Homo sapiens: one gene and its partners. The protein of the gene in region 2 interacts with the protein of the main gene of each other region in a pairwise test. Each region holds a gene or a part of one and is shown on either strand. Other genes may lie near its edges.

What was found.
Region 1: the proteins of STX12 (region 2) and STXBP5L interact in binary tests that used the Homo sapiens proteins (3 or more experiments, as listed by UniProt).
Region 3: the proteins of STX12 (region 2) and AQP8 interact in binary tests that used the Homo sapiens proteins (3 or more experiments, as listed by UniProt).

Annotation. Positions count from the first base shown.
Region 1 is NC_000003.12:120,903,676-120,911,204, reverse strand, and holds the start of STXBP5L (syntaxin-binding protein 5-like), read right to left. Parts: upstream 3,001-7,529; 5' UTR 2,871-3,000; intron 2,529-2,870; exon of another isoform or gene 2,014-2,528; intron 1,635-2,013; 5' UTR 1,627-1,634; coding exon 1,438-1,626; intron 1-1,437. UniProt on the Homo sapiens protein: Plays a role in vesicle trafficking and exocytosis inhibition.
Region 2 is NC_000001.11:27,776,207-27,783,227, reverse strand, and holds part of STX12 (syntaxin-12), read right to left. Parts: intron 1-7,021. UniProt on the Homo sapiens protein: SNARE promoting fusion of transport vesicles with target membranes. Together with SNARE STX6, promotes movement of vesicles from endosomes to the cell membrane, and may therefore function in the endocytic recycling pathway.
Region 3 is NC_000016.10:25,212,269-25,219,946, reverse strand, and holds the start of AQP8 (aquaporin-8), read right to left. Parts: upstream 3,001-7,678; 5' UTR 2,902-3,000; coding exon 2,890-2,901; intron 2,753-2,889; coding exon of another isoform or gene 2,750-2,752; coding exon 2,502-2,749; intron 1-2,501.

The DNA.
Region 1 (7,529 bases), on a different chromosome or scaffold from region 2:
TCAACAGCCCAATGCCATTCTGTTTCAGAAGTCTATCTTTCCTATACCAGTTTTACCTCTGGTAAAATTCTCCTGTATCACTGTCATATACATGAATTGAGAGAATTTGGAAAAAATTTTCAGAATCTGATCGTGAAAATTGCAAACACATCAAAGATTAGAGAATCAGGGCATAATTCCCCTGCCTAGCAGTTCAAATTTGAACTCCAGGACTCTTTTACATTTGTCTCATAACCACTGTTAAGACCTTCCCTCATCGAACAGAATATCTGTTATTTCCTATTGAGGAAAAAAATTATTACTGTACACAAATTTCACAAAGTAGCTTAGAATTAAATCTGTTTATCTAAATTAACTCTAAATAAACTTGCTTTTATGTAAACTAATAACTATAGATTTAATGTTTTTATAATGACCCTGCTAGGAATATAGGCTGAGACAGTGATTGAAATATACCTCATTATACATATATCACTTGTTTACCACAAATATAATTTTAATAATTTCAAAAAACTTTTCTTTTGTGAAAGTATTTTTAAAAATTGTTAATTTCTGTAATTTTGCAATTTTTCTATTTCTTATGTAGCCAAACACATTTACAAAACTATATTCATTTATATGACATAAATAACTTAGTAGCCTTTGTTGCATATAATAGGCACATTCCAAGACAACTCAAAAAAGGGCAATAAAATTATAAATCACTTTATGTCATAAAATATAACAAATATAGCAATAACAATATCTCTATGCATTAACCTAATGCTTGTTTTATAAACTCTCATCTTCTCTACCTACCAGAAACTCTCTTTTGCATATTCATTAGAAGTTCAATATCAAAGTATAATTACATAAAATGTTTTCTTACTAAACCAGAACACCCGCTATTTTTGAGTTCCTACAACTGCAAGTTCTTATAAGCCTGTGCATTTGTCTGTTTGTGTATTTATGAAGAGTTTAAGAATGTGAAGGTGTTTTTATTCGGAATTTTAAAGCAATGTCATTGGCCCCCTTAAAATGAACATATTTTCCTATTATCTACTTAATCCTAGCAACATGCTAGTAGCTTTATTCATTTCATACTGAACAGTGAAATAACAATATTTTCTCTGATAACACAAAAAACCAAACGACTATTTGCTTCTTCAGTTAATATAATACACAAATATTAAAAATTTTGTCCACTATTGGATCTTAACATTATCTTGCAAATTCTACTTTTTGTGTGTGCTCATTTCCCACTTAAACTATCATTGCTTTTTAAGTTGACGCCTAAAATATCTATTAAGCCAAACTGATCTACCCACAGAGCTTTCTGCAGCAGACTCTGATGCTGACATCTCAACAGTTTCCTGTTCCTGGTATGTTTTTCCCCCCTTGTTTCCTTACAACAGTATAATAAAGAAATAATAGGCTTTAAGCCAATTCAAAACTTACCTTGCAAATCTGGAAATACTCCGAAGTCAAAGTTTCCTGAATTTCCTCTCTGAGAACCCCTGCAGTCCCCGCCGGATGTACGGAACCACTTCCAGCCCCACCACCACTGTTACTGCCACTGCTGCTACCACTGCCAGGGGAGGAGGCAGTTAAGCCATCCAAAACTTTTCGGAAATTAAACTTCTTCATTTTAAACACTGTTGAGAAATACAAAGGAAAAAAAGGGAAAGAGGTGACTTAACACGTGCAATTAGACCTTGGTAAAAGCCTTTCTCTTTTCATTAGTCAAGTCAGTCCCCATTTTATGAGCATTGGTTACGACCGACTGGAAAAAAAGAGTCAGGATTCGTTTTGCCAAATTTTAATTCTAAAAAGCATATCCTTTTTAAAAAAAGATAAATATAACACAACTCCAAAAGCAACAGTATTCCCTCCTCACACATCAGATTTTCAAGGACTGTATCCCCAGCTGTAACTACGCTTTATCAGCACTGGGGTAAAAATAAAAGGCAGTGTCATCATCGTCATTAGCATTATATCATCATTATTATACAATCAAACCAGAGTTCAACAGACCAAGACTCTGTCTCTCTCTTAAGGGCGGACTTTCCTTCTTCGAAACGTTCGGCTCAGAGTATTTTATTTTCAGAAAAACGACGTTGGGGGAGCCGGTATTTACTCTGCCACCACCTTCCGGGCTCTTCCCCCATCAGCTTCAACGCTTCCTTTTTTGTCACTATGAAAGGCGGGGAGGGGGGTACTTTTTCTAGTCCCCATCCCCCAGCAGCCCGGACCCCAAAACATCTGCGAGTGACCCACAGCAACAGCTGCCGGGGAGGGGGGGAGGAGGAGAACGGCGACACCGTCTGTTTCCACTTGTCCCTCCGCCTCCCCCTCACCTCCCCCTCATCTCCCTCCCCGCGTCCTCTTTCCCCCCTCTCCCCATCTCCTGCTCCCCTCCCTCCACCTCTGCCCGCAGCCGCCGCCGCGCTCTCCCGCCTGTTCGCCCGCCCGCCGTCCGCTCTCCCCGCTGCACGGCAGCCGCTCTCGGGGGACGTGAAGCGGTGGCGGCGACGGCTGCGGCCCGAGTCCCGCCTCAGCCTGCTGGGCGCGCAGAGCCGCCGCTCCCGCTGTCCCTCCCCCAGGCCCAGCGCTGAGGCGCGGGGCTCTCGCCCGCCCGCGGGCGCGCGAACACACAAACACCTCACGCCGAGGCATTCGCGCTCCCAGCCAGAACACACACAAACACCCTCACACGGGCATTCGCGCGCTGGTGCGCTCGCTCTCTGTCTCTGTCTCTCTCTGTCTCTCTCTCTCTCAAACACACACACACACTCACACAGACACACACAGGTGCGAGGGAGCCACAGCTGGACGGCGGCAGCGGCGGCGGCGTCCCAGAGGGATGACTATCTGACCCAGGACTTAGGCACCTTCCTCAGACGCCTCTAGCCGCCTGCCAGCCCGGGAAGCTGAGGGGGCCGAGGTAGGCGGGCTCCGGCCGCTTCTCTGGGCCCTCTGGTCGCGGCGCCTGGCGCTCTCCGAGGTCCTAACCGAGCAGTCAGGCTCCAGAGCAGGCTCCGCCCTCCCGCCGTGGGAGGCAGGCCCCGCCCCCGGGCCGGCCCCTAGCTTGCCCCGCCCTGCTTCTTCCCCGGCAAAGCTGGGAGGTGAAGGGGGCGGGGTGCCCGGGGACGTCAAAGGGCGGGAGTAGCTTCGGCGCCAATCCTAGATTCGATAGGGTAAGTTCTGTGGTCTCCAGGGCAGAAGAAATCTGTGGATAGGCCGAAGGTAAAGCCAATGACAGTGGGAGGGGGGAATTTAGAGAAGTAGGTGAGGTATTTGATTGACAGCGGTATTGGCCAGTATGCTGGGGGTCGTGCTCTGGGGGATGTAATTGGCGCTACCTGTTGAAGGACTCAAGTGTGAATCAATAGAATGCCTGCAAGCGTGCGAATTTGGACGCCTGGAGTCTGAGGATGCGGGAAGCGTTGCTTACCTTAGGTATGGCTCTGGACAGTATGGTGAACTGAGCAAGTGTTTTGCACCTTTTCACTTCTGCGAGCCTCTTCCCGGTCTTCAGGAGCATCTATCTGGCTCCCATCACTCTCCTGCTACCTGCACTCAACTTGTATCTGTGATTAACCCCTGCTGTTACCAATAATGGCTTAATGGTTCGTATCTGCCAAGGAGAATTGTATTTCAACAGTTTCAGAATATATAGCCTTCTAGAGCCTAAGGAATTGATTGCTTACCTTGCTCTCTAGTAAGTAGAATTACTCCTTCCCCATCATCCTCACATATACAAAGATATTTAATTTCTTTAAAGAAATATTTCTCACTCTGTAAACCGTATCAAGAATATATTTTAAGCTATTTCTGTGAGTCACAATAATCATTTTGAAAGATGTATTATTCAGTGCAGAAAAAAAAACTGTATCAGGATAGATTTGGTTCTGAGCCCTCACCTGCTATTGACTTCGGGAAAATTTGGACCCCGATGTCTTTGCGAAATGAATGGCAGTTCAGCGGGTCACAGCTAACTGAGACTTCAATTTGGGCATCACAACAGAACTCATTAGTGATCATTTCAAATATTGTCTTACATCTTACAATCTTTGACCTCTTTTTTTCTTTTCTTCTTTTTCTTCTTTTTCACCTCTCCTCTTCTCTCTCTCTCTTTTCTCTCAATCAAGGGAGAGAGTGGGAAGGAGGAAGCAGGAGACTTGAAGGATGATGACTTGTCCAAGGACATAGCAAAGAAATGGTAAAGATGAAATAGAGCTCAGTTTTTCAGATCCTCAGCTCAACGTTGAATCTTTCTGTCCTGAATGACTATTTCACTCCTTTTGGGACTCCCTACACTGCTGGTAGTCTCTCATTGCCACAGCTAGACAGTAACCTTCTTGAAGGCAAGCATGGAATTGTATATTTCTCCTAGATTATTTAGCACCAGGCACAATATTTCACTTAAAATAGGCACGTAAAGGGTTCTGAAGAGTTGGTTTATTAATATTTTTTATTAAAGATATATGAGTTGGTACCCAATTACATAATGTTTGAAAGGGGTAAAAATAATGGTGGAAATAAGTGATATGTCTGACACAAACTAGATCTTGGTAGGGTTCCAAATTCTGTATTGGGTCCCTAACAACAGGTATCTTTTTACTCTTTTCCACCTTTTTTCTTCTCTTCTTCCTGGCCCATTGCTCACCTCAAAGTATGGACGCTAGTTAAGGATAAAGAGTTTGCTTTCCTTGTTTTATGTCTGTCTTTTCTTTTTAAAAACAGAGGCAAGGAGGGTTATAATAAAGTGGCTGAGTTTTCATTTTTCTAATAAATGAAAGCAAGCCTATAGCAAGTAGTGGTTTGACATTTTGATGGGAGCGAAGAAGGAGAATAGCCCCAATTCAGCAAAGTGAGATGTAATGTTTGCAAACAAAACCTCTTAAACTGATCATCACTAGCACCATATTATCACAAACTAAATGATGGTCTTTATTCTAAAAATTGGGGGAGAGCTGAGGAAAAAAGTACACAAAAGATTGACAGAGATCCTTCTTGAGGACCCTGGAGAGAATTCAATGGACTGCCTGAGTTAGATGGGACAACAAATAGGTATAGGAAGTGGGAGAAAAGCCAAGTCAAAATGTATTCATGTTTCCAAATAAATATTGGAAGCCTAAAAAAATATGATCATTAGGATGCTTAGATTGTGGACTATTTGGGATTATTTCAAATATCTGTGTTCCTCCACAGTGAATAGCATAATGTCTTCTACATAGTAAGTGCCCAGTGAATATTAATTTGAATGAATGGCAGCAAGTAAAAATCATAACATAATTGCAGTCTCAGAGAGCCTGTGCACACAGGATATTGTGATGCCAATTCACAAACTGTGAGCAAAGGATAGAATTAAGCAAGAGGCAGAGTACATTGTGTGTATGAGGAGACAGCAGAAACAATAGCCTAAAAATCTTACTAGGTGAGAGAAGCATAATGAAATATCTATGGAAGTAAATTTCATCCTGGATTAATTAAAAAGCAATAAGATGTTATTTTATAAACCATCTATTAACAGCAATGAGACCAGACCACAGCATATATTTTATAAATAATGTGAGAAACTTCAGAGTTGGATCGGGTAATAATAATGATGACCCCTTATCATTCACTGCAAACTGGAAGAATACTTTGTGGAGAGGAATGGCTGAGGTACAGCTTCTGAATAAGGCTTGATTTCTTCCTAAAATGACAAGTATGAAGAACTGCAAAAAGAAAAATACTTTCAGCTTGATCCATGGAGCAAAATCATCAAAGCATTTAAATAAATCTACTACATCAGAAGGATTTTTAGGATGTGTGTTGAAAATATGTTACAACTCACTTTAAGTGTTCGTGATTTTGGACTCAAGCCAACAATGAAGCTAAGAGAGGCTGCCTTTCCACACCTGCAAAATAATTAAATAATTGTAGAAAGTATGTACATGTGTGGCACTTCACACAGAGAAGAAAATTTAACTGGCTAGGGTTACAGAAAACTAAGCAAAATTGACAAAACCATATGTAAATAATCCATTGTATATAGAGATAATAATAATTCTACCAGTTATTTAGCACTACGTCAAACATTGTACTATGAACTTTACATACAACTCTTTTAACTTGATCCTTATTATAACTCTATAAGATAGGTATTGTCCCCATTTTATGAAAGAGGAAATTTGGAGCTCAGAAATATTTAAGAAATTCACCCAAGGTCACTTAGGTGGATAATCCAGTCTTCGAATTCAAAGCTGTCTAACTTCTAAGATCATGCTCTTAATCGGTGCCTTATTATTTGATACCATTTAGAAGATTAAATAGAAACTAGAATAGAAAAAAAGGTGGCGGGTCAATTCTCCACCTAAAATAGTGATTGTATGTGTATTAGTCTTTCAGGACTGCCATAACAAAATACCATAGACTGGGTAGCTTAAAAAACAGGAACTTAGCACAGTTTGGGAGGCTAGAAATCCAAGATCAAGGCATCGGCAGATTTATTTTCTTCTGAGGCTCTCTCAATGGCTTGCAGATAGTCACCTTCTCTCTGTGGCCTTACATGGTCTTTTCTCTGTGGGCTCACATCCCTCGTTGATTTCTCCATGTGCCTAAATTTCCGCTTCTTATAAGGCTCCCAGTCAGATTGTGTTAGAGTCCACCTTCATGGCCTCATTGTGGCTTAATCACCTTTTAAAATATCCTATCTCCAAATATGCTTCCATTCTGAGGTACTGAAGGTTAGGGCTTTGACATATGAATTTTGGGAAGACACAATTTAGCCCATGACAATAAGATCATCAAATTCAACATCCTTTGAGGAGAGCATCTACTATGAGCTGGAATTGTGTTTAAAAATTTACATTTATTGGCCGGGCGCGGTGGCTCACGCCTATGATCCCAGCACTTTGGGAGGCCAGGGTGGGTGGATCACGAGGTCAGGAATTCGAGACCAGCCTGGCCAACATGGTGGCCTGTCTCTGCTAAAATACAGAATTTACCTGGGCACGGTGACAGGAGCCTGTAATCCCAGCTATTTGGGAGGCTGAGACAGGTGAATTGCTTGAACCCAGGAGGCAGAGTTTGCAGTGAGCCGAGATCGCGCCACTGCACTCTAACCTGCGTGACAGAGCGAGACTCCATCTCAAAAAAAAAATTACATTTATTTTCTCATTTAATCCTCACAACAATAATGTATGGTAGCTATAGATAACTCCATTTTACAGGTAAAAAACTGAAGCAAAGCAAGGTTAAGTAATAAGCCCAATATCATACATCTGGTAGGTTTTGAAACAAGAATTTGGACTAATCTCAATCTTACTCCAAAGTTCTTTCCTCACGCTAGTAGTTTTCTGTTGAGGACCCAGAGAAATCCCTTTATAAAGGTGTTTTATATTAGAAAAGTTAATTATGACAAATTCGAGTATTAGGTTAAAACAAAACAGAAAAAAATGGAAAATATCTCTTCAGGAATTTGGATACTAGAACTAAAAAGACATTTGAGAGTTCATGGGCACTGAGTACTAGAAATGGAAGACTTTGGGAACGGCAAGCTA
Region 2 (7,021 bases):
TTATACATTACAGCTAACATCCACACTAGGAACTACTCTAAACTGAAAATTCTTTTTGTACTTTAAGCTGATATCGGCAGAATCTGAATCTCCAAATGAACCTTCATCCAAAGCAAAGTCAAATCAAAGTCAAATTATATTGAAAGTAACTATCATCAGAGGTGGGAAAAAGATTTCTCTTCATTTGACAGGATCGAATGCTCTAAGTCAGTATTTTAAACAAATTCAACAACAAAAAAACATTATTTACACCAAATGAGAAAATGATAGCCTATGTGGTGATTATGAAAATGAAGTCATCTCAGTGTTTTACTCTGAAAATTAGGTTTACATTCTGTTTTTATATCACTACAATGAAAATTACCTTTTTTAAAAAATGTTTCATTTTTTTGAGACAGAGCTTTGCTCTCTTTGCCCAGGTTGGAGTGCAATGGCACGGTCTCAGCTCACTGCAACCTCCACCTCCTGGGTTCAAGTGATTCTCCTGTCTCAGCTTCCCAAGTAGCTGGGATTACAGGTGCCCACCACCATGCCGGGCTAATTTGTATATTTTTAGTAAACAGGGTTTCACCATGTTAGCGAGGCTGGTCTCGAACTCCTGACCTGAGGCGATCTGCCCACCCTGCCCTCCCAAAGTGCTGGAATTACAGGTGTGAGTCACCGTGTCCATCAACCTGACTTTAAAAAATAGCCACTGTACCATAACAGTAAAGTTCTAGACTAAAGTGAAAATGGATACTAAATATCAAAGGTATAATTTTCCTTTAACCATACCAGTTTCAGAATATGCAATGGTTAAGAGCATAGCTCTGAATTAAGACCGCCTATATGGCCAGGCATGGTGGTTCAAGTTTGTAACCCCAGCACTTTGGGAGGCCAAGGTGGGAGGATCACTTGAACCCAGGAGTTTGACACCAGCCTGGGCAACAAAGTGAGCCCGTCTCTACAAAAAATTAAAAAATTACTTGGACGTGGTGGTGCGTGCCTGTAGTCCTAGCTACTCGGAAGGTGGAGGTGGGGGGATCCCTTGAGTTCAAGGTTGCAGTGACCTATGACGGTACCACTGTACTACTGGCACATCCTGGGTGACAGAGCAAGACCCTTTCTCAAAACAACAAAAAACAAAAAACCACTGCTTATGCCTATGCTTGTCGTGGTCCCGCTACTTCCAAGCAAAGTGATCTTGAGTAAAAGGCTCCACTCCTCTATGCCTTAGTTTCTTTGCCTTAAAAATGAGAATAAGAGAATCTTCATATGGTTGTTGTGAGGATGAAATGAGATGATACGAAGCTAAATTTAGAACAATGGCACATAAAAGCACTCAATTAAAGATAGCTATTATTATCAAACTCAAGACCAAGAAAAATGTACTTAGCAGTAATAAAATCAATTAAGTACATATTGAATGCCAACTATATATGCATTGTTGTTCCAGGCACTGTGACTAAAGACAAATGTATAATGCATGGTCTCCACAAAACTAACAGTGATCTCTCTGCTTGGGGTGACAATATCAAAAAGCTTGAATTAATTAAAGAATATATAATATAAGTGCGTGCTAAACTGTGAGGGAAAATTGCTTGTATTATAAATTCAAAGGAAATACACCAAAATGAGAGCTAACATTTCTTAAGCACTTACTATGTAGCAGGGACTGTAGATGAATTATCTCATTTAATCATCACAACCCTATGAAATAGGTATTATTAACTCCATTTTAACAATAAGGAAACTGAGAAATAGGTAAAGCAATGTGTTTACACAGCTAGTAAGAAGCAGATCTAGGATTCAAATCCTGGCAATATGACTCCTGAGCCTGCCTACCTAACTATTAAACTATTGCAGGGCAAGGGATTCAACAAGTATTAATAATGTCACCACTGGGGCTGGTCGTGGTGGCTCACACCTATAATCCCAGCACTTTGGGAGGCTGCAGTGGGCAAATCGCCTGACGTCAGGAGTTCGAGACCAGCTTGGTCAACATGGTGAAACCCTGTCTCTACTAAAAATACAAAAATTAGCTGGGCGTGGTGGCATGAGCCTGTAATCCCAGCTACTCAGGAGGCTGAGGCATGAGAATTGCTTAACCCCGGGAGGCAGAGGTTGCAGTGAGCTGAGATTGCGCCACTGTACTCCAGCCTGAGTGACAGAGCAAGACTCCATCTCAAAATAATAAAAATAATAATAATGTCACCATTTATTGAACGCCTGCTATGTGCCAGGCAGGCAGTATACCAGACACTTTCAAACATCCCCCCTTTTTTTTTTTGAGACAGGGTCTCACTCTGTCACCCAGACTGGAGTGCAGTGACGTGATCTCGGCTCACTGCTACCTCTGCTTCCCAGGCTCAAGCGATCAGCGATTTGCCCATCTCAGCCTCCCAAGTAGCTGGGACTACAGGTGTGTGCCACCACACCCAGCTAATTTTTGTATTTTTGGTAGAGCCAGGGTTTCGCCAAGTTGCCCAGGCTGGTCTCAAATTTCTGAGCTCAAGAGATCCACTCGCCTCAGCCTCCCCAAGTGCTGGGATTACAGGTGTGAGCCACTGTGCCCAGCCTCAAACATCCCCTTTTAATAATTTCACTCATTTTATAAATGGGGTTACACACGGCAGGGAAAATAACCTGCTCGAGGTTAATACATGGAAGGGGAGGGATTCAGTCACAGATCTGCTGACCCCGGAGAGTCCATGATCTTTCTGACTTCACTTTGTCTTTCAAAAGCAAAGGAAGGCTGGGCGCCTGTAATCCCAGCACTCTGGGAGGGCAAGGCAGGCAGATCACCTGAGGTCAGGAGTTCAAGACCAGCCTGGCCAACATGGTGAAACCCTGTCTCTACTAAAAATACAAAAATTAGTCGGGCATGTGGTGCACGCCTGTAATCCCAGCTACTGGGGAGGCTGAGGCAGGAGAATTGCTTGAATCTGGGAGGCGGAAGTTGCAATGAGCCTGATCGCCCCACTGCACTCCAGCCTGGGAAACAGAGCAAGACTCCGTCTCAAAAAAAAAAAAAAAAAACAAGCAAAGAAAAACTTAATTGCTATCAGCAGGACTTATGCACAACTGAGAGGATTTGTATAATTTAGATAGCCAATGAGGTAGGGAGAGAAAAGATACTAAAAAAAGGAGGAACCAAAGGGCGGACGCAGTGACTCATGCTTGTAATCCCAGCACTTTGGGAGGCCAAGGCGGGCGGATCACCTGAGGTCAGGAGTTCAAGACTAGCCTGACCAACATGGAGAAACCCTGTGTCTACTAAAAATACAAAATTAGCCGGGCGTGGTGGTACACGCCTGTAATCCCAGCTACTCGGGAGGCTGAGGCTGGAGGATCGCTTGAACCTGGGAGGCAGAGGTTGTGGTGAGCCGAGATCGCACCACTGCATTGCAGCCTGGGCTGTTAACAACAGCGAAACTCTCTTTCTCTAAAAAAAAAAAGGAGGAACCAAATGAGCAAAATATAAACTGAAAGATAGAGTTGAGAAACATAAAGAAAATAGCCTTCCTAGCAAAGAGTAAGGAAGAGTAGAAAATATGGCTAATTTGGGTTAAGATCGCAGGGAGTGAAAGCAAGGTGAAATATTAAGATCTGATTCAGGCCAGGCACGGTGGCTCATGCCTGTAATCCCAGCACTTTCGGAGGCCGAGGCAGGTGGATCATCTGAGGTCAGGAGTTCGAGACCAGCCTGGCTAACATGGTGAAACCCTGTCTCTATAAAAATACAAAAATTAGCTGGGCGTGGTGGCAGGTCCTGTAATCCCAGCAACTCGGGAGGCTGAGGCAGGAGAACTGCTTGAACCCAGGAGGTGGATGTTACAGTGAGCCAAGATTGCGCCATGGCACTCCAGCCTGGGCGACAGAGTGAGACTTGGCTCAAAAAAAAACAAAAAAAAACAAAAACAAAAAAAACCATCTGATTCAATAGACAACAGAGAGCCACTTTAGGCTCTTGAGGAAGTGAGCAGTATAATAAAAACAGGACTTTAGACATAGTGCTGATAGCACCATCAGTATAAACTAGAATGGGGCAAGACCATAATCAGAGACACTATGAATATGCTGTTGAAATACAGATGTTGAGCTGATGAATACTTAAGAGGATAGCAAAGAAACATAAAAAATAAGGGGCAAACATGAAAATAACTTTGAAAGTGGAACCCCAAGGATTTCATAATAATCAATTTTAAATGTTCAACTCTTCTTGCTTTGGGAGACTGAGGTGGGAGGATGGTTTGAGGTCAGGAATTCAAGACCAGCCTGGGCAACACAGCGAGACCCCCGTCTCTAAAAAACTTTTACAACTTGCCAGGCGCAGTGGCATATGCCTGTAGTCCTAGCTATTTGGGAGACTCAAGTAAGAGGATCGCTAAAGCCCAAGAGTTTGAGGTTACAGTGGACTACGATTGCACACTGCATTCCAGCCTGGGTGACAGAGTGAGACCTCCACTCTTCTTATTTTGTTAGTAAACAAGATCACATCAATTAGCAACATAAAGAACAGAAATGCTGTTCTTTTTTTTTTTTTTTTCCTGAGATGGAATCTCGCTCTGTTGCCCAGGCTGGAGTGCAGTGGAGCGATCTTGGTCTTGGTTTACTGCAACCTGCACCTCCCCAGTTCAGGCGATTCTCCTACCTCAGCCTCCCGAGCAGCTAGGACTACAGTCGCCTGCCATCACACCCGGCTTACTTTTTGATTTTTAGTAGAGGCAGGGTTTCGCCATGTTGGCCAGGCTGGTCTCGAATGCCTGACCTCAGGTGATCCGATCGCCTCGGCCTCCCAAAGTGCTGGGATTACAGGCGTGAGACACCTCGCCCAGTCAGAAATGCTGTTCTTTAATCCCTTCAGAGTTAACTTTGAGGCTAATAGGTTTTCAGCTATATCTGCCTCAGCAATACTTGCCCAGACACTTTGTTCCACAGTAAGTCAAATATTTTTCTTCTGTACCCAACACATACTGATAATCACCACTTGTACCAGGCAGTCAACCTTAGCTGTACCTGTAACAACCCACGCAGTGAGCTGCCTTATCTCAGGCTGATGTGCTCAGCAATTCCAACCCCACATCTGTGGCTGAACAGTTTAGAAAAAAGAATAACTATGCTCTCAGACTTTTAATGGGTACAAGTCCTTGCAGGGCTGTATGGGTGTGTGGGTAATATATATGTCTGAGAGCTCATATTCTAAGGGTATATTTGGGTGTGCTGGCCTCTTGGAGAGGTTTGGGGATAGGCACTAGCTTGATAACTGAGTAGATGCAACGTCATCCCATCAATTTCAGATTTCCCATTTCTCACCAAACAATTCCAAAGGAAGAATTTCTTTCTTTTTTCTTTTTTTTTTGAGACTGAGTCTCGCTCTGTCATCCAGGCCAGAGTGCAGTGGCGCAATCTCGGCTCACCGCAACCTCCGCCTCCCGGATTCAAGCAATTCTCCTGCCTCAGCCTCCCAAGTAGCTGGGATTACAGGCGTGCACCATCACGCCTGGCTAATTTTTTTGTATTTTTAGTAAAGACAGGGTTTCACCATATTGGCCAGGCTGGTCTCAAACTCCTGACCTTGTGATCCGCCTGCCTCAGCCTCCCAAAGTGCTGGGATTACAGGCGTGAGTCACCGTGTCCGGCCTGGAAGAATCTCAACTCACACTGCCTAGGGTCATAGGATATGGTATGTACTACACAGTACAAGGGGAAAGAGGCAGGAAGAGTTCCAAAATGGTAGAAATGCCTCATTCATTCAAATCAATTTGATACAATTTATTATGCATCAAGATCCTATATAATGTGATCCCTGGTTACCTCTCTGGCCTCTTTTCCTATTCTGCCTCCCTTTTCTAACGGTACTCCAGCCAAACTAGCCTCCTTGCTCTTCTTTGAACACATCAAAGTCCTTGCTCTTGCCCTCTACCTAGAATGCCTTTCCCAGCTACTCACACAGCTCTTGCTCATTTCATTCACATGTCTACTCACTCAAATGTCAGCTCCTCAGAGATGCCTTCCTTGATCAACTAAAATAATGCACCCACCCTCCCTCTTCCCTGACTCTCTACCCACTTACCCTGCTTTTTCTTCATAGCATTTATTATTACTTGACATTATTTATATGTGTATGTACGTATGTGTGTATACATACTCCCCCCGCACACAGAAACACACATATACACACAATCAGGGGAGGGATTTTATCTCTTGTTCTGCTTCACCCCAGCACACAGCAGGTGCTCCAGGAATATTTGTTGCATAGTGGATCAATGAATCTTTCATATGTTTGGGACTGAGATAAGTACTGGAAATATAAAGATGAATAAGTCATGTCCCTTGACTCAAAGGAGCTAACAATCTGGCAGAGGAGATGAACACACCACGAGAAGAGAAAGCACCACGGCTTCAGGTATTTCCCCCACAGAGTGTCCTCTGGAGAGTGAAAAAACAAGTTATTTGCATACTTGTAAACCTGAAGTGTTAACTGCTATAGCACTGTTATTGATTTATTTATTTTTAATTTATTTATTTAGAGACAAAGTATTGATCTGCCACCCAGGCTGCAGTACAGTGGCATAATCACAGCTCACTGCAGCCTCCAACTCCTGGGCTCAAGAGATTCTCCAGCCTCAGCCTCCTGAGTAGCTAGGACTACAGGCACATGCTACCATGTCTGGCTAATTTTTAACTTTTTTTTTGTAGAGATGGGGTCTCACTATGTTGTCCAGGCTAGTGTCAAACTCCTGGCCTCAAGTAATCCTCCCTCTTTGGCCTCCTAAAGTGCTGGGATTACAGGTGTGAGCCACTGAGCACAGCCCAGAACTGTAATATTAATAAAAAGTAATAAAAAGACAAATTGCTGGTCATAAGAGACCTAGTTTCAAATTCAGATATTGTCATTTGTTAGCAGGGCAACTATTTAACCTTTCTTAGTTTGTTTCCTAATACATAACATGGAAATGATACTGGTGCTTCAGAGTTGTTATAAAATAAGATAATGTATGTAAAGCACTTTTCATACTGCCTGGAACACAGTATGTAC
Region 3 (7,678 bases), on a different chromosome or scaffold from region 2:
TCTTCTGCTTCAGCCTCCCAAGTAGATGGGATAACGGGGCTGCCACCACGCCCGGCTAATTTTTGTATTTTTGGTAGAGACGGGGTTTCACCATGTTGGCCAGGTTGGTCTCGAACTCCTGACCTCAGGTGATTCACCTGCCTCGGCCTCCCAAAGTGCTGGGATTACAGGCGTGAGCCACTGCGCCTGACCTCCATGCATGGTTTGAAAGCACCAGCCAGTGCTCAGACTCCACAGGTTGGGAAGAGGGGCAGCCAGGCCTACTTGGCCTCAAGTAGCTTAGCCTGGGCTCTGCTGAGATACACAGATGAAGTCAGGGTGAGGCGGCTTCCCAGGGGAGCCCCAAAGGGGAGAGAAACTGTCACCCAGAGCATGGCTCTATCAGGAGGGCCAGGTGACGAAAACCACACATTTCCTGGTTTACACTCATTAGCAATAAAACAATCAAGACACATTCATTCATTCATTCATTGTTCACTCAGCATATATTTCTCTGACACTTACTGTGTGCCAGGGGCTGTGCTGGGTGCTTATAACTTACATACATAGCTTATCCTGGATCCAGTGAACAACCTCAAAGTCAGTGTCTGGCACGCAATAGGTGCTGAATAAATATTTGTCAAAAAAGCCAAACAGAGAGGCAGTATTTGCAGTGCCAAAGAGATGGTCTTTCCAGCCAGCTGGCCTGGGTTCAAAGCTCAACTCTGCCACTGAAGAGCTGTGTGGCATTGGCAAAGTTACATAACCTCTCTGTGCCTCAATGATCTCTGCCTGATAAAGCTATTGCAAAGATATTAAGAATTAATATTTGTACAGCCCATAGTAGTATCTATGTAGTTAGCATTCAAAAAACATCAGCTATTATTATTACTCATATTTATACCACTGCACACAGAGGCTTCAGCAACTTGCTGTGGTCACCCTGCTAAGAAGTGATAAAGGTTGCCTTCAATCTCAGATCCGTCCAAAGGGAAGATCATGTACTTTTTGTTTCACTTGCAGCCTCCCTTGGACGTCTAAAGAGATGTGGTTTGTTTTTTGTTTGTTTGTTTGTTTGTTTGTTTTTTGGAGATGGAGTCTCACTCTGTTGCCCAGGCTGGAGTGCAGTGGCACAATCTCGGCTCACTGCAACCTCTCCCTCCCAGTTCAAGCAATTCTCCTGCCTCAGCCTCCGAAGTAGCTGGGACCACAGGTGCCTGCCCCCACGCCCAGCTAATTTTTGTATCTTTAGTAGAGACAGGGTTTCACCCTGTTGGCCAGGCTGCTCTCCAACTCCTGACCTCAGGTGATCCACCCGCCTCAGCCTCCCAAAGTGCTGGGATTACAGGCGTGAGCCACTGCACCCGGCCTAAAGAGATGTTAAAGCTCTTTTCCATTCTGGTTTTCTCAGAAATAGTATTTCTGTTTCCTCATTCAGATCTATTTTTTGAGTGAGATTTAATACAGACCAACCATGTCCCAGATCACCCTGCCAGGCACCCCACTCAAGATCTTCGTCGTGATGGCTGGCTCTCCTGGGAACCAGCAGCCATGTCCACAGACCTCCCCATTGAGCCTCTACCCAGACGAGAGCTAAGCCAGAGAAGCCTGTCCCTTTCCCTGCCCCTCCTTCTTGATCACCTCTTGACAAGCCAGGACCACTGCAGATCTCTGCATACCCAGGTGGGAAAACCTGGCTCAGGTCTTCTATGCATTTCTGCTTTCCCTAAAACCCCCTTCTAGTGGTAACAATAACACAGCAACCAATGCCTGTTGTATGTTTGGTGTGTGCCAGGCGCTCTACTTCATTTAATTCTCATGACTTCCGCATGAGGCACTTGGATTTGAGCGCTGGAGCCAGACAGCTTGTTCTTGACTCCCGCCTCTGCCACTTTCTGGCCCTCTAAGCTTGGACAGATTACATGGCCTTTCACTTTTGCAGCTGTACAATGGGGCTAATAACAGGACCTACCCCACAAGGCTTTTGTGAGGATTAAATAACTAATATCTATAAAGTAATTAGACTAGTGCCTGGTACATGGTTAGCAATATAGATATGTTGGCTTGAAAAAAAAAACATTTAAAAGCTACTATTCCCATTTTATAGGCGGGGAACTTTGGGTTTAGAGAGTAACTTGCCAGCCAGGCATGGTGTCTCATGCCTGTAATCCCAAAACTTTGGGAAGCCAAGGCAGGAGGATCGCTTGAGACCAGGAGTTCAAGACTAGCCTGGGCAACATAGTGAGACCCCATCTCTACAACAAAATTTAAAAATTAGTTGGGTGCTGCGGCGCATGCCTGTGATCCAGCTACTCAAAAAGAGAATGACTTGCTCAAAGTCACAAGCTCACAGGCTGCGGGGTCTGGAGTTGACCCCAGTCTGACTCCCAACCCCATAGTTATCCAGAGCGCTCCTTGAAATCCCGAATACGTATGCGCCCAGGGGTCCTTGACAACGCCTTTGCTTTCCACACCCAGTGCCCCAAGTCAGCATCAGGCTGAATCCTCAGAGCTGGTCTCACCTGATATTCCCCAGCGTGGCAATCACGAGCCCCAAAGCCAGCCCGTGGGCCAGGGCCGGCTGCAGCAGCCCAGTGTCCGTCCCATTCTCAATGACCGACAGGCACCCGATGAAGATGAAGAGAGCAGAGCCCAGCAGTTCGACCAGACATGGCTGCACAAACCGTTCGTACCAGGACACTCGCCACCTGCCACCCACGCTCGGCTCCCTGGCCTTGTCATTGCCAAATTCAGGCTCACACATGGCTATCTGCCGTAGGGAAAAAGGGACAGAGGACACGGGTGGGAGGCAAGTCCAGATATAGAAGGCCCCGACCCCCAACCTTGAATTAATTCACAGCCCCCCTTGCTCTGCCAGCCTGGAGAGGAAGATGCCGACAGAGGGCTCACCTCTCCAGACATCAGGATCAGATGGCACAAACATCGGACTCTTGCCTGAGCTGCTGGGAAACCTGCACCTGCTGTGCAAGATACTCTTATCTCCTAGGGACAGGACCTGCTGATCACACTATGGGCTCTGCCCCTTTTAAAGGGCTGCAGAGGCTCAATGCTGGTGCAGAGAAAGCAATAAACCTCAGGTAGGAGGCGGCTCTGAGGCCCAGAAGAGGAAATTTTTTTAAATCTCAACAGGGCAGGGTGAGGGAGTCAGGGATTGCTGAACTTTCCGCCAGTGAGGGAAAAACACGCCAGCTTGGCTGTGTCATCTGGGAGCACACTCCAGGCTGTAGAAGGTGGGAGATGGGTCCAGCACCCCAGCTCCCCACGGTCCAAAGCAGAACAGCACATGTTAGTGGGCCCCACTGGGTTGGAACCTCACATGTTAAGAAACAGCAAACAGCCAGGTGCAGTGGCTCACGCCTGTAATCCCAGCACTTTGGGAGGCCGAGGCAGGTGGATCACGAGGTCAGGAGATTGAGACCATCCTGGCTAACACGGTGAAACCCCGTCTCTACTAAAAATACAAAACTCAGCCGGGCGTGGTGGTGCACGCCTGTAATCCCAGCTACTTGGGGGGCTAAGGCAGGAAAATCATTTGAACCTGGGAGACGAAGATTGCGCAGAGCCAAGATTGTGCAACTGCACTCCAGCCTGGGCAACAGAGCAAGGCTCTGAAAAAAAAAAAAAAGGAAAGAGAAAGAAGAAAGAAAGACAGAGAAAGAAAGAAAGGAAAGAAAAGAAAGAAAGAAAGAAAGAAAGAAAGAAAGAAAGAAAGAAAGAAAGAAAGAAAGAAAAAGAAAGAAAGAAAGAAAGAAAGAAAGAAAGAAAGAAAGAAAGAAAGAAAGAAAAAGAAAGAAAAAGAAAGAAAGAAAAGAAGGAAGGAAAGAAAGAAAGAAAGAAAGAAAGAAAGAAAGAAAGAAAGAAAGAAAGAAAAAAGAAAAAGAAAGAAAAGAAGGAAGGAAGGAGAAAGAAAGAGAGGGCGTGTTGGTGTTTGCCTGTAATCCCAGCTACTCAGGAGGATGAGGCATGAGAATCACTTGAACCCAGGACCCAGAGGTTGCAGTGAGCCAAGATCGCGCCACTGCACTTCAGCCTCAGAGTGAGACCCTGTCTAAAAAAAAAAAAAAAAAAAAGAAAGAAAGAAAGAAAAAAGAAAAGAAAGAAACAGCAATCCCATTTTCAATTATTTTTCCAATGAGTCCCACAGCTTCAAACACCTGCAGTCACCGTGACAGCCTGAGCCAGGACTGAGTGTATAGATGACGATCCTTCACAGACAGAGGCAGCAGAGACTGGCAAGAGGTAATGCAATGCAGCGGCAAGACCCATGAACTTTGGAAATAGGCTGCCTGGCGTTCAATCCCAGCTCTGCTGTAAACTAGCTATGTAACCCTTGGGCACATGACTTGGCCTCTCTGGGCCTTTGTTTTCTCATCTGTTAGGTGTGGATGTTAGTGGTTTCACCATGTCATAGGGTCGTTGGGAAGTTTAAATGAGATAATACGGGTAAAGTGCTCAGGACAGTGCTAGACACACAATACCAGTGTCCACTAATTTACAATACATGCTTAGCTGTAACTAATAGCTAATAGTGAGCACTTTCTATGTGCCAGGCACTGGGGCTAAGTGCCTTCTATTATCTCATTTAAACCTCACTGCCACCCTGTGAAGCAGGTACTATTATTACAACCATTTCACAGACGAGGAAGTGGAGTGTCAGGAAGATTGAGTTTCCCAAGATTACACAGCTTATATGATCACAGAACTTGTGGGCTGTCACAAAAGGATAAATACTGTATCTGATTCCACTTGTATGAAGTACCTAGACTAGTCAAATTCATAGAGACAGAAGTAGAATGGTGGTTTCCACGGCCCGAGGGGAAGGGAGAATGAAGAGTTTGTGTTTAGCGGGTACAGATTTCCTGTTTGGGAGGAAAGTTTTGGGATGGATGATACAGTGGCACAACAATGTGAAGTACTTAATGTCACTGAAATGTACACTTAAAAATGGTTCCAAATGCTGGGTGTGCTTGGCTCACACCTGTAATCTCAGCACTTTGGGAGACCAAGGCAGGAGGATCACTTGATTTTAGGAGTTTGACACCAGTCTGGCCACATGGTGAAACCCTGTCTCTACTAAAAATACAAAAATTGGCTGGGTGTGGTGGTGCACGCCTGTAATCCCAGCTACTTGGGAAGCTGAGGCAGGAGAATCGCTTGAACCTGGGGGGCAGAGGTTGTAGTGAGCTGAGATCACACCACTACACTCCAGCCTGGGTGAGAGGATGAGACTCCATCTCAAAAAAAAAAAGGTTAAAATGGCATATTTTATTTTATGTGTATCTTGCCACAATTGAAAAAAAATACTTGTGAGCTAACCCACTACACTCTACTGCCTTTCTAAGAGAGATGGATGGATGGATGGATGGATGGATGGATGGATGGATGGATAAGTGGATGGATGGGTGGATGCATGGATGGATGGGTGGATGGATGGATGGATAGATAGATGGTTGGGTGGGTGGGTGGGTGGATGGATGGATGGATGGATGGATGGATGGATAGATGGGTGGGTGGATGGATGAATGGATGGATGGATGGATGGATGGTTGGAAAGAAGGGAAGAAAGAAAGGAAGGGAGGGAGGAAGGAAGGGAGAAAGGAAGGAGGAAGGAAAGAAAATGAGATGAGTTCCTTATTCATTCATTCACTCACCAAACATTTAAATAGCTGCTGCAAGCCAGTCACTGTTCTAAGCTGGCTGGAGATGTAGCAGTGAACAAGACAGGCAAAATCCTGCTCTGTCTCATAGCTTTATCTTTGAGTGTTTGTATGCACTGATAGAGAAGTCAAGCTAGAGCTAACGGAATTTTAATGCTCATTTCTGACATTTCTCAACTACTCACTACATCTCCAACACCATGCTAAACACTCGGTATATATTCGTAAACCCCTTTGAGATAAGTCCTATCACTTATTATCACCATCTTCAGATGATAAAAACGAGGCACAAAGAAGTTAAGAACTCACCCATGGCTGTGTACATAAAAATATCTGCTTCAGGACAGAAGTGGACATATCTAGAGAAGAGCGTGACAGTTTGTTGACAGCCCATGTCAGCGAGAGGCCCAGGAATACAGGGTCTCTGCCAAATATCTGCACCTCTAGGAAGGTTATTTTTAGCCCTGTTCTCTACCTCCTCCATATCCCACAGCACATCATACAAGATGTTTCTTAGACCCTTCCTTCCACATCCTATAAATAGCAACATAAGATAGTCTGACCCAAGGCTTCCCCATCCCCCTCATTATTTGCTCAAATCCTGCCAGTACTGCTTCCAGAATAATTCTCTCTTGTTTTCACCCATGCCTTCATCTGTTCTTGCTTAGTCCCTTGAACAAAGAAAAACTAAGCTGGATGCACTGGCTCGCACCTGTAATCCCAGCACTTTGGGAGGCCAACGCGGGCAGATCACAAGGTCAGGAGTTCAAGACCAGCCTGACCAACATGGTGAAACCCCATCTCTACCAAAAATACAAAAATTAGCTGGGCATGGTGGCACACGCCTGTAATCCCAGCTACTCAGGAGGCTGAGGCAGGAGAATCGCTTGAACCTGGAAGACGGAGGTTGCAGCGAGCCGAGATCACACCACAGCACTCCAGCCTGGGCCACAGAGCGACACTCCATCCCACCCCCCCACCCCCCAAAAAATGGATTCTTTGCTCACATAATAGTCCATGACAGGCTCGTCTCCAAATGGTGACTCAGGGATCCAGGCCACTTCCATCTTGGAGCTGCCCCATCTAGGTCCTCAGATCTTCTCCAGCAAAATGGGAAAAAGAGAATGTGGAGGGCTGTGCAGGAAATTATTATGGGCTAGGCCTAGAAATACCATATATCCCTCTCACCTATATTTGATGGGCTCAAACTCAGTCACGTGGCTTCACCTGACTGCAATCGAGCCTGGGAATTGTAGTCTAGCCCTGTGCCCAGGAGGAAAAAGAAAGGCATTTTATGAATATCGAGCAATTTCTGCCACATACTAGAAATTGTTGCTTTCCCAGAGACCATGGTTCTAGTTGAGTTTTTCCCTGAATTAAATCATTCAGTGTGTCCCATGGTTCCAAGACAAACCCAGACTCCCTTAGCTAGCCACAGAGACTTCAGTTCCTAGCCCCTGAATCATCTCTTGCCACATGAACCCTAAACAATTTATCAGATAAGCTATGTACCCTCACCCGGCCTTGTCCATGCCAGTCCCTCTGTTTGGAGTCCTTGTTTGCCCTCTTGGCCAACTTCTACTCCTCATTCAGATCTCAGATCAGATATTATGTCCTCTCTGATGCCTGGGCAAACTACCTATTGGTCCTCTAAAAACACCCTTCCCTTGCTCAAGGCAAGGTTGGATTCCATAACTCCAAAACTAGGCCAGTGCAGCGGCTCATGCCTGTAATCCCAGCACTTTGGGAGGCCAAGGCGGGTGAATCACAAGGTCAGGAGATCGAGACCATCCTGGCTAACACAGTAAAACCCCATCTCTCCTAAAAATACAAGAAATTAGCCGGGCATGGTGGCACGCGCCTGTAGTCCCAACTACTCAGGAGGCTGAGGCAGGAGAATTGCTTGAACACGGGAGGTGGAGATTGCAGTGAGCCAAGATTGCACCACTGCACTCCAGCCTTGGCAACAGAGCAAGAGTCCGTCTTAATTAAAAAAAGAAAAAAAAAAGGAAAGAAAAAGA